Homo sapiens: one gene and its partner. The protein of the gene in region 2 interacts with the protein of the main gene of each other region in a pairwise test. Each region holds a gene or a part of one and is shown on either strand. Other genes may lie near its edges.

The links.
Region 1: the proteins of RIOK3 (region 2) and CREB3L3 interact in a two-hybrid assay, tested with the Homo sapiens proteins (one large-scale study listed by BioGRID and IntAct).

Annotation. Positions count from the first base shown.
Region 1 is NC_000019.10:4,166,749-4,171,473, forward strand, and holds part of CREB3L3 (cyclic AMP-responsive element-binding protein 3-like protein 3), read left to right. Parts: intron 1-1,602; coding exon 1,603-1,709; intron 1,710-3,391; coding exon 3,392-3,460; intron 3,461-4,342; coding exon 4,343-4,427; intron 4,428-4,634; coding exon 4,635-4,725. UniProt on the Homo sapiens protein: Transcription factor that may act during endoplasmic reticulum stress by activating unfolded protein response target genes. Activated in response to cAMP stimulation. In vitro, binds to the cAMP response element (CRE) and box-B element.
Region 2 is NC_000018.10:23,473,033-23,477,757, forward strand, and holds part of RIOK3 (serine/threonine-protein kinase RIO3), read left to right. Parts: intron 1-396; coding exon 397-594; intron 595-1,915; coding exon 1,916-2,075; intron 2,076-3,973; coding exon 3,974-4,054; intron 4,055-4,124; exon of another isoform or gene 4,125-4,146; coding exon 4,147-4,236; intron 4,237-4,725.

The sequences.
Region 1 (4,725 bases), on a different chromosome or scaffold from region 2:
CGCTCAGGCTGGAGTGCAGTGGTACAATCTGCAGGTAGCAGCTAACTGCAACCTTGAACTCCTGGTCTCAAGGGATCCTCCTGCCTCAGCCTCCCAAGTAGCTGGGACTATAGGCATGCACCACCACACCCAGCTGATTTTGTGGTTGTTGTTTTGTTTTAGTAGAGACAGGGTCTTTACTAAATGTTGCCCAGTCTAGTCTTGAACTCCTGGACTTATGCGATCCTCTTGCCTTGGCCTCCCAAAGTGCTGGGATTACAGCACTGTGAACCACCGCGCCCAGCCTGACATTCCCATTTGAAGACACTTATTGGCCGGGTGTGGTGTCTCATGCCTGTAATCCCAGCTCTTTGGGAGGCAAAGATGGGCGGATCACCTGAGGTCAGGAGTTTGAGACCAGCCTGGCCAACATGGTGAAACCCTGTCTCTACTAAAAATACAAAAATTAGCCAGGCATGGTGTTGTGCACCTGTAATCCCAGCTACTTGGGAAGCTGGGGTGGGAGAATCACTTGAACCCTGGGGGTGGAGGTTGCAGTGAGCTGAGATCTTGCCACTGCACTCCAGCCTGGGTGACAAGAGCGAAACAAGAAAGAAAGAAAGAAAGAGAGAGAGAGAGAGAGAGAGAAAAGGAAGGAAAGAAAAGAAAGAAAGAAAGAAAGGAAAAGAAAGAAAAGAAAGAAAGAAAGGAAAGAAAGAAAGGAAGAAAAGAAGGAAAGAAAGGAAGAAAAGGAAAGAAAGAGAGAAAGAGAAAGAGAAAGAGAGAAAGAGAGAAAGGGAGAAAGGAAGGAAGGGAGGGAGGGAGGGAGGGAGGGGAAAAGAAAGGAAAGAAAAGAAAGAAACGTAAGAAAGAAGAAAAAAATTATTAATTAGTCTTAAAACACTTGCTGTCGCCAGGGAAAGGTGATGTTTCCAGGGATGGCCACAAGGTGGTGGAGTGGTACCCATGCCCAAAGTCTGGTGGGCAGTTGCCCATTTTACAGTATTGGGAGCTGGGAAAAGACCCTCAGAACCCAGGCACCTCCCAGAGACTCTGTGAGGGTTTGGGCAAAGGGTAGCTTCAAGTCATTAGGAATCTGCCTCTGGGTCCTTGGCTCCGGGATGTCTTGTATGCAAAGAGGATGGGGTGAAGTTGTGGGGTCGAGGTTAGGTGAAGTGGGGTCAGGACAGTGGGGACTGTCGCACCATCCCCAAAGTGAAGACTTTAATTTTTTAATTTTAATTATTTTATTTATTTATTTATTTATTTATTTATCTATTTATTTATTGAGATGGAGTTTCGCTCTTGTTGCCCAGGCTGGATTGCAATGGCACGATCTTGGCTCACTGCAACCTCCGCCTCCCGGGTTCATGCCATTCTCCTGCCTCAGCCTCCCGAGTAGCTGGGATTACAGGCACCCGCCACCATGCCTGGCTAATTTTTGTATTTTTAGTAGAGACGGTGTTTCACCATGTTGGCCAGGCTGGTCTCGAACTCCTGACCTCAGGTGATACGCCTGCCTCGGCCTCCCAAAGTGCTGGGATTACAGGCGAGAGCTACTGCCCCCGGACTCCAAGTGGGGACTTTCTGGCCTGAAACCCTCCTCCCCATTTCACTTGGCAGTACGAGGAGCGAGTGCTGAAAAAAATCCGCCGGAAAATCCGGAACAAGCAGTCGGCGCAAGAAAGCAGGAAGAAGAAGAAGGAATATATCGATGGCCTGGAGACTCGGTGGGTAGTGCTGGACCCAGACTCTACACTCGTGGAGGAAACTGAGGCCCAGAGAGAAGGAGATGTGGCTAAGGCCACACAGCTTAGAGTCTGACAAAATTGGAGGTGATTCTCCTCTCTGGGAGAGATCATGCTTCTTACTGATTGCAGGGATGGAAAGATGCCTAGTGATGGTGTAGGACAAGGGTTTGGGGGACCCTTTGCCCCCTAGAAGGTGTGCGGAAAAAGGACAAAGTGTGACCCATCCTATTCTGACCCTCTGCCTGAAGATAGACACTTCCTTTTTGTGTGTGTGGAAGGGTCTCCTTCTATCACCCAGGCTGGAGTGCAGTGGTGCGATCTTGGCTCACTGCAACCTCCACCTCCCGGGTTCAAGCGATTCTCCTGCCTCAGCCTCTCCAGAAGCTGGGATTACAGGTGCATGGCCACCACGCCCAGCTAATTTCTTTGTATTTTTGGTAGAGATGGGGTTTCACTGTGTTGCCCAGGCTAGTCTCAAACTCCTGACCTCAGGTGATCTGGCCGCCTCAGCCTCCCAAAGTGCTGGGATTACAGGCGTGAGCCACTGCGCCTGGTCTCTCCCCTTTCTTAAATGCAATCTGCTAAGCTCCTGATCATCTTTATCCAGGGTCATTCCCCCCACCACCCTATGTCCTGGGTAATTGTATCCCATTTTACAGACACAAAAGCTGAGATCAGAGAGTGGAGTGGCCCAAGGTCATGGGGAGAGGGAGAGATGAAACTTGAATCTCGGCCGGGCGCCGTGGCTCACACTTGTAATCCCAGCACTTTGGGAGGCTGAGGCAGGCGGATCACGAGTTCAGGAGATCGAGACCACGGTGAAACTCTGTCTTTACAAAAAATCCAAAAAAATTAACTGGGCTTGGTGGCGGGTGCCTGTAGTCCCAGCTACTCGGGAGGCTGAGGCAGGAGAATGGCGTGAACCCAGAAGGCAGAGCTTGCAGTGAGTCGAGATTGTGCCACTGCATTCCAGCCTGGGCGACAGAGCGAGACTCCATCTCAAAAAACAAACAAACAAAAAAAGAAACTTGAGTCTCCCAGGATGCCTGGTTGTCCTGATATTTCATCTTCTGGAAACATCACTGCCTGAATCTAGGAGGCTCAGCTTTTTTTTTTTTTTTTTTTTTTTTGACACAGAGTTTCATTCTTGTTGCCCAGGCTGGAGTGCAATGGTGCGATCTTGACTCACTGCAACCTCCACTTCCCGGGTTCAATCGATTCTCCTGCCTTAGCCTCCCAAGTTCCCAAGTAGCTGGAATTATAGGCGCCCACCACCACACCTGGCTAATTTTGCATTTTTAGTACAGGCAGGGTTTCACCATGTTGGCCAGGCTGGTCTTGAACTCCTGACCTCAGGTGATCCGCCCACCACGGCCTCCCAAAGTGCTGGGATTACAGGTGTGAACCACCACACCCATCCAGGGGGCTCAGCTTTGAATGAAGCCCCCTCCATATTAATGCAGAAATGGGACCTAGGAACCAGGCAGATGTGGGTTCAAATCCCAGCCCTGTCTGACCTGCCGAGTAACCTTGGATGAATGACTTCCCCTCTCTGGCCTTGGGTTCTCTTGGCTTGTAACGTGAGGCCTCTGGGGGAGATGTCAGTGGGGCCAGCTGGTGACTGGCATATGCTGAATGTCGATGCGTCTTCCTCCTTTCAGGATGTCAGCTTGCACTGCTCAGAATCAGGAGTTACAGAGGAAAGTCTTGCATCTCGAGAAGCAAAACCTGTGAGTCTGGGTCCAGCTGGGGCAGAGGACAGGGGAAGCAGCCCCAGAGTCCCTTTGCAGGAAGAGCAGAGAGCCCATGTGATGGCAGAATGACATAGGGAATAAGAGTTTTACCTATGGGCCGCGTGCAGTGGCTCACGCCTGTAATCTCAGCACTTTGGGAGGCCGAGGCGGGTGGATCACCTGAGGTCAGGAGTTCAAAACCAGCCTGGCCAACATGGTGAAACCCCGTCTCTACTAAAAATACAAAAAAATTAGCCAGGCGTGGTGGCGGGCACCTGCAGTCCCAGCTACTCGAGAGGCTGAGGCAGGAGAATTGCTTGAACTCGGGAGGCGGAGGTTGCCGTGAGCCGAGATCGCACCACTGCACTCCAGCCTGGGTGACAGAGCAAGGCTCTGTCTCAAAAATAAATAAATAAGGCCTGGTGTGGTGGCTCACGCCTGTAATCCCAGCACTTTGGGAGGCTGAGGTGGGCGGATCACAAGGTCGGGAGATCAAGACCATCCTGGCTAACACGGTGAAACCCCGTCTCTACTAAAAATACAAAAAAAATTAGCTGGGTGTGGTGGTGGGCGCCTGTAGTCCCAGCTACTCGGGAGGCTGAGGCAGGAGAATGGTGTGAACCTGGGAGGCGGAGCTTGCAGTGAGCTGCCATCCCACCACTCACTCCAGCCTGGGCGATGGAGCAAGACTCTGTCTCAAAATAAATAAATAAATAAATAAACAAATAAATAAATAAATAAAATAAATAATAAAGAGCCAGAGGCCCTTGAAGAATGGATGGAATTTGGACTTTAGCGGGGCTGGGGGACCCCGGAAATGGACGAGAAGCAGAACCGAGGCCCTTTAGGGCTCAGCGGAGGCCTGCCTGTCTCTCTAAGGTCCCTCTTGGAGCAACTGAAGAAACTCCAGGCCATTGTGGTGCAGTCCACCAGCAAGTCAGCCCAGACAGGCACCTGTGTCGCAGTGAGTCCTGGTGCCCCCAGGCAAGCCGGGGACCTAGGCTTCTGTAGAGGGGCCCATAGGGAGGTGACAATGAGTCCAAGCTCTCCTTGTGCCCCAGCTCAAGTATGATCCAGTCTGGTCTTTGGGGCCTCAGTTTCCCTGCCTGTGGGATGGAGATGCTTGCAGGGGAGGGGAGGGAGGGGGTGACTCTGCCGCTGTCTCCACCAGGTCCTGTTGCTGTCCTTTGCCCTCATCATCCTCCCCTCCATCAGCCCTTTTGGCCCCAACAAAACCGAGAGCCCTGGGGACTTTGCGCCTG
Region 2 (4,725 bases):
CTGCTAGGAGTGAAAGAGTTATTTTTTAAAAAGCTGTTTTATTTGTTGCTTTTTATTGAATTTTGCTCCTGAACCATATTGGGAAGACTGTAGCCTATTTTCAAGTGCATATGTCTTCATTGTATTTCAAGCTTGATTCCGTAGTCATTAAGTGAAGAACATTATGTGATAGATGGTTGAAAATCGGTTGACAATTTATTTGAAAGTATATTTTATTTAAAAAATCAAACCAAAACCTAAGGCTTTATTAAGATCCAAAACCTAAAGGCTTAAAAAAACAAGACTTGACACTGAGAGAAGGTAGATCTAATTTAGTGTTACAGAATCTTTATTTTGAAATTGTTGTACTTGTGAGCTGGCAACTTGTACTGACTTGATTTTTTTTCTTCCACTTAGCATGGAGGATGAAAAGGAAGATAGTAAAGTTATACCTACAGAATGTGCCATCAAGGTATTTAAAACAACCCTTAATGAATTTAAGAATCGTGACAAATATATTAAAGATGATTTCAGGTTTAAAGATCGCTTCAGTAAACTAAATCCACGTAAGATCATCCGCATGTGGGCAGAAAAAGAAATGCACAATCTCGCAAGGTAAAGAAAATATTGTGCTAGACGTAATCTTGGGTAAATACCTTTTTGCATTAGGATAAAAAAATCCATGCTTTCTTTTACATTCATTTATAGAAATAATGAAAGGCCAGGTGTATAACCTCGATTCATACTTTTAGGATGAAAAAGCCATTTTCTTTTTTCTTTCCTCAATGAAGCTTGAGGGAAATCTGGGCATTTTCTGCCTTAGACACTTTATCATATATCTAAATGCCATTTTTAAATTGCTTTTATCACGAAGTAAAACTTCCAGCATCCAATTAGGCTTAGCATAAAAAAATGGTTTCTTTTTTGTTTCAGAAAATGTTTGTTGCATTTAATTTGTTAATTTTGTGGGAGTAAGTTCTTACCAATCAAATTACATTTTGTTTTAATTTTTATACTTGTATCTGAATTTTCTAAGCAATTTATTTTCTATCAAAGAATTTGTTTTGTCAACCAAGAAATTCAGTAATAATCCTTCTCATTAAAAACCTTTCTATTATCTTAATTTATTAAAAGCTTAATTTTAGTTTGTTATTTTCTAAAGATATTTGCTTTCAAAAGTAATTATTCATATATATCAGTTACAAAATTCTTCTACTGAGAGTTCCCCACCAAAATAAGCCAGGCATGGTGTGCACGTGTACTCCCAGCTACTTGGGAGGCTGAGATGGGAGGACTGCTTGAACCTAGGAGTTCAAAACCAGCCTGGAAACGTTAGACTCCCAAGACCTTGTCTCAAAAAGAAAAAAAAATGTTTTTTCAATAAATTAATTAATTCCAGGTAGAATCATTTTCTAGAAGGTCTTGCTGTCCTCCAGTCTCTTTTCTGTACTCCTGAAATTCCTGCCTTTCTTAAAATTCTTCAACAGTTTTCCATAGTGGAGCTTGCCTGTCTTTGTAGCCTCAGCCCACATTGCCCTTCCTCCTACTCACAGATCCAGCTATGTTGATTGATATACATTCCCCAAATGGACTGTGCTCTTGAACACCTCCCTGCATTCCCTTGCACTGTCTTTATCTGGCTAATTCCTGTTCCCTACCTCTTCTTCTAATAAGCCATCCTTGGTGCTGTGTGCTCCTGTAGCTCCTACCCATACCTCTGCCAGTGCGTAATTGTAATTGTCTCTTGTCTGTCATTTCCATCAGTCCCTGAGCTCTCTATGGGCAGAGGCTGTGTTTTACTGTCTTTGTATTCCCACATCACCAGGGTAGAACATAGTGCCAGCTCATTGCAGGCCCTGATTAGATATTTATTGAATAAATGACATATTTTCTCTCCTTCTGATCTGTATATTCTGAATCATTTCTTTATGTATAGAATGCAGAGAGCTGGAATTCCTTGTCCAACAGTTGTACTACTGAAGAAACACATTTTAGTTATGTCTTTTATTGGCCATGATCAAGTTCCAGCCCCTAAATTAAAAGAAGTAAAGCTCAATAGTGAAGAAATGAAAGAAGCCTACTATCAAACTCTTCATGTAAGTTGTGCTTTTAAAAGAATTCACACACTACCTTTAAAAAATATTTCCTCTAAACTTTAAAAAAATTTCCTTAAAGAAGCCAGGCATGTTGGCTCACACTTGTAATCTAGAACTTTGGGAGGCTCAGGCAGTAGGATCACTTGAGCCCAGGAGTTTGAGACCAGCCTGGGCAACATGGTGAAACCCTGTCTCTACTAAAAATACAAAAAAATTAGCTGGGCGTGTGCCTGTAATCCCAGCTACTCGGGATGCTGAGGCAGGGGAATTGCTTGAACCAGGGAGGTAGAGGTTGCAGTGAACCAAGATTGCACCACTGCACTCCAGCCTGGGTGACAGAGTAAGACTCTGTCTCAAAAAAAAAAAAAAAAAATTAAAAATTAGCTGGGCACACACCTGTAGTCCCAGCTACTCGGGAGTCTAAGGTGGGAGGATCACTTGCACCCAGGAATTTAAGGCAGCAGTGAGCTATGATTGTGCCACTGCACCCCAGCCTGGGCAAGAAATAGAGCAAGACCCTATGTCTTAAAAAACAAACAAAAAAACCCAAGTTCCTTAGATAGTGCTATTTCAAGGTGCTATAACAAAGACAAGTTGAAGTTTGTGAAAGAATGTTAACACTGAAGAGTTGTTTTTCTATCAATATGTGTGTGTCTTAAATAGTTTTAGAAAACTTACAGACTTAACCAGGGAAGTCGTCATTGTTAGGATTAGTGACACAGTGCATGAAGCTATTTTTCACCAAACTTCATTAAATAAAATTTGCTGTTAGTACATTTAGCAAAGTGCCTCATTAGTTTGTGAGCTTTCATGAATGTTATAGTTTTTTGGGGCTTTTTTTTTTTTTTTTTTTTTTCAAATAAGAGACAGGGTCTCACTATGTTGCCCAGGCTGGTCTCGAACTCCTGGGCTCAAGTGATCCTCTTGCCTCAGCATCCCAAAGTGCTGGGATTACTGGTGTGAGCCACCACACCCAGCCATTGAATGTTACAGCTTTAACAGTGAAGGAAAGGAAGCAGGTCTGGTCTCATCATAAGAGAGTGATGATGAAAATTGAAAACAGTAGGGAGTGCAGGTGTTAAGTTGGAAGGCATGTTGGGAATCTCAAGGAAACTACATGCTTTGAAATAGCAACTGAATTCAATCTGAGGGCCTTCCAGGTTGAGACAATGCTCCTAATACTGCCATTATCCCTCTGTGTTTTAATTGAACACTGGAGAAACTTAATGTGCTACTTTATGCAATCTCCACATGAAGCTGTCATGTAATGCAGCCATTGATCTAGATATGGAAATTTTAATCCAAATTAATTTTTAAAGATATAGCTAGAAAGGTGATCCACCTTTCTCTGCCTCCAAAGGTAAACATTGAAAGGAAAATCAAGTATGTTTTTCTGGCCTCTTTGGGAGGTGGGGTGGCTGGGGAAGAGATTAAATAGTGATGAAACTTTTCTATTTAATTCTATTAAGGCTGGAAAACAAATGCATTAATGTTGATTTCTACTGTAAGACTTTGAGGGGGGCTGGGCGCAGTGCTCACGCCTGTAATCCCAGCACTCTGGGAGGCCGAGGTGGGCAGGTCACGAGGTCAGGAGATTGAGACCATCCTAACTAACATGGTGAAACCCCATCTCTACTAAAAAAAATTACAAAAAATTAGCCAGGAGTGGTGGTGGGTGCCTGTAGTCCGAGCTACTTGGGAGGCTGAGGCAGGAGAATGGTGTGAACCAGGGAGGCGGAGCTTGCAGTGAGCTGAGATCACACCACTGCACTCCAGCCTGGGCGACAGAGTGAGACTCTGTCTCCAAAAAAATAAAAAATAAAAAACTTTCAGGGGTGTCATCATCAATAATACCACTTAATTATTCATTTCCTAATGTGTGCCTTCCCTCTTCACAGTTGATGCGGCAGTTATATCATGAATGTACGCTTGTCCATGCTGACCTCAGTGAGTATAACATGCTGTGGCATGCTGGAAAGGTGAGGAGCACATTTTGTTAACATTCAGATTTAATTACTGTAAGTAAAATTTAAAATGTAAATACATCAGTTCATGTTCTGTATTGAAATAGGTCTGGTTGATCGATGTCAGTCAGTCAGTAGAACCTACCCACCCTCACGGCCTGGAGTTCTTGTTCCGGGACTGCAGGAATGTCTCGCAGGTAGACGTGTAAACCAATATGCCTTTTTTTGTTGGATGTAACAGCTGCAGGTATTTTTCTCACTCCTAAGATAAGTAAGAGGACCATATTCTTAGAAATTGAAGGAAGGGATACGGGCTGCTTTCAGGACAAGGATATAAAGATCAATTTGTCATATTTCATTTTGCAAGAATTTGATTCCATGTCTTACAGTTGGGTAAAATGTTCAAGGGGTGCCAGGTATGGTGGCTCACGCCTGTAATCCCAGCACTTTGGGAGGGTGAGGTGGGTGGATCATTTGATGTCAGAGGTTCAAGACCAGCCTGGCCAACATGGTGAAACCCCATCTCTACTAAAAATGCAAAATTAGCCGGGCATGGTGGCAGGCGCCTGTAATCCCAGCTACTTGGGAGGCTGAGGCAGGAGACTCACTTGAACCTGGGAGGCAGAGGCTGCAGTGAGCCAAGAACGTGCTACTGCACTCCACCCAGCCTGGGCAACAGAGTGAGG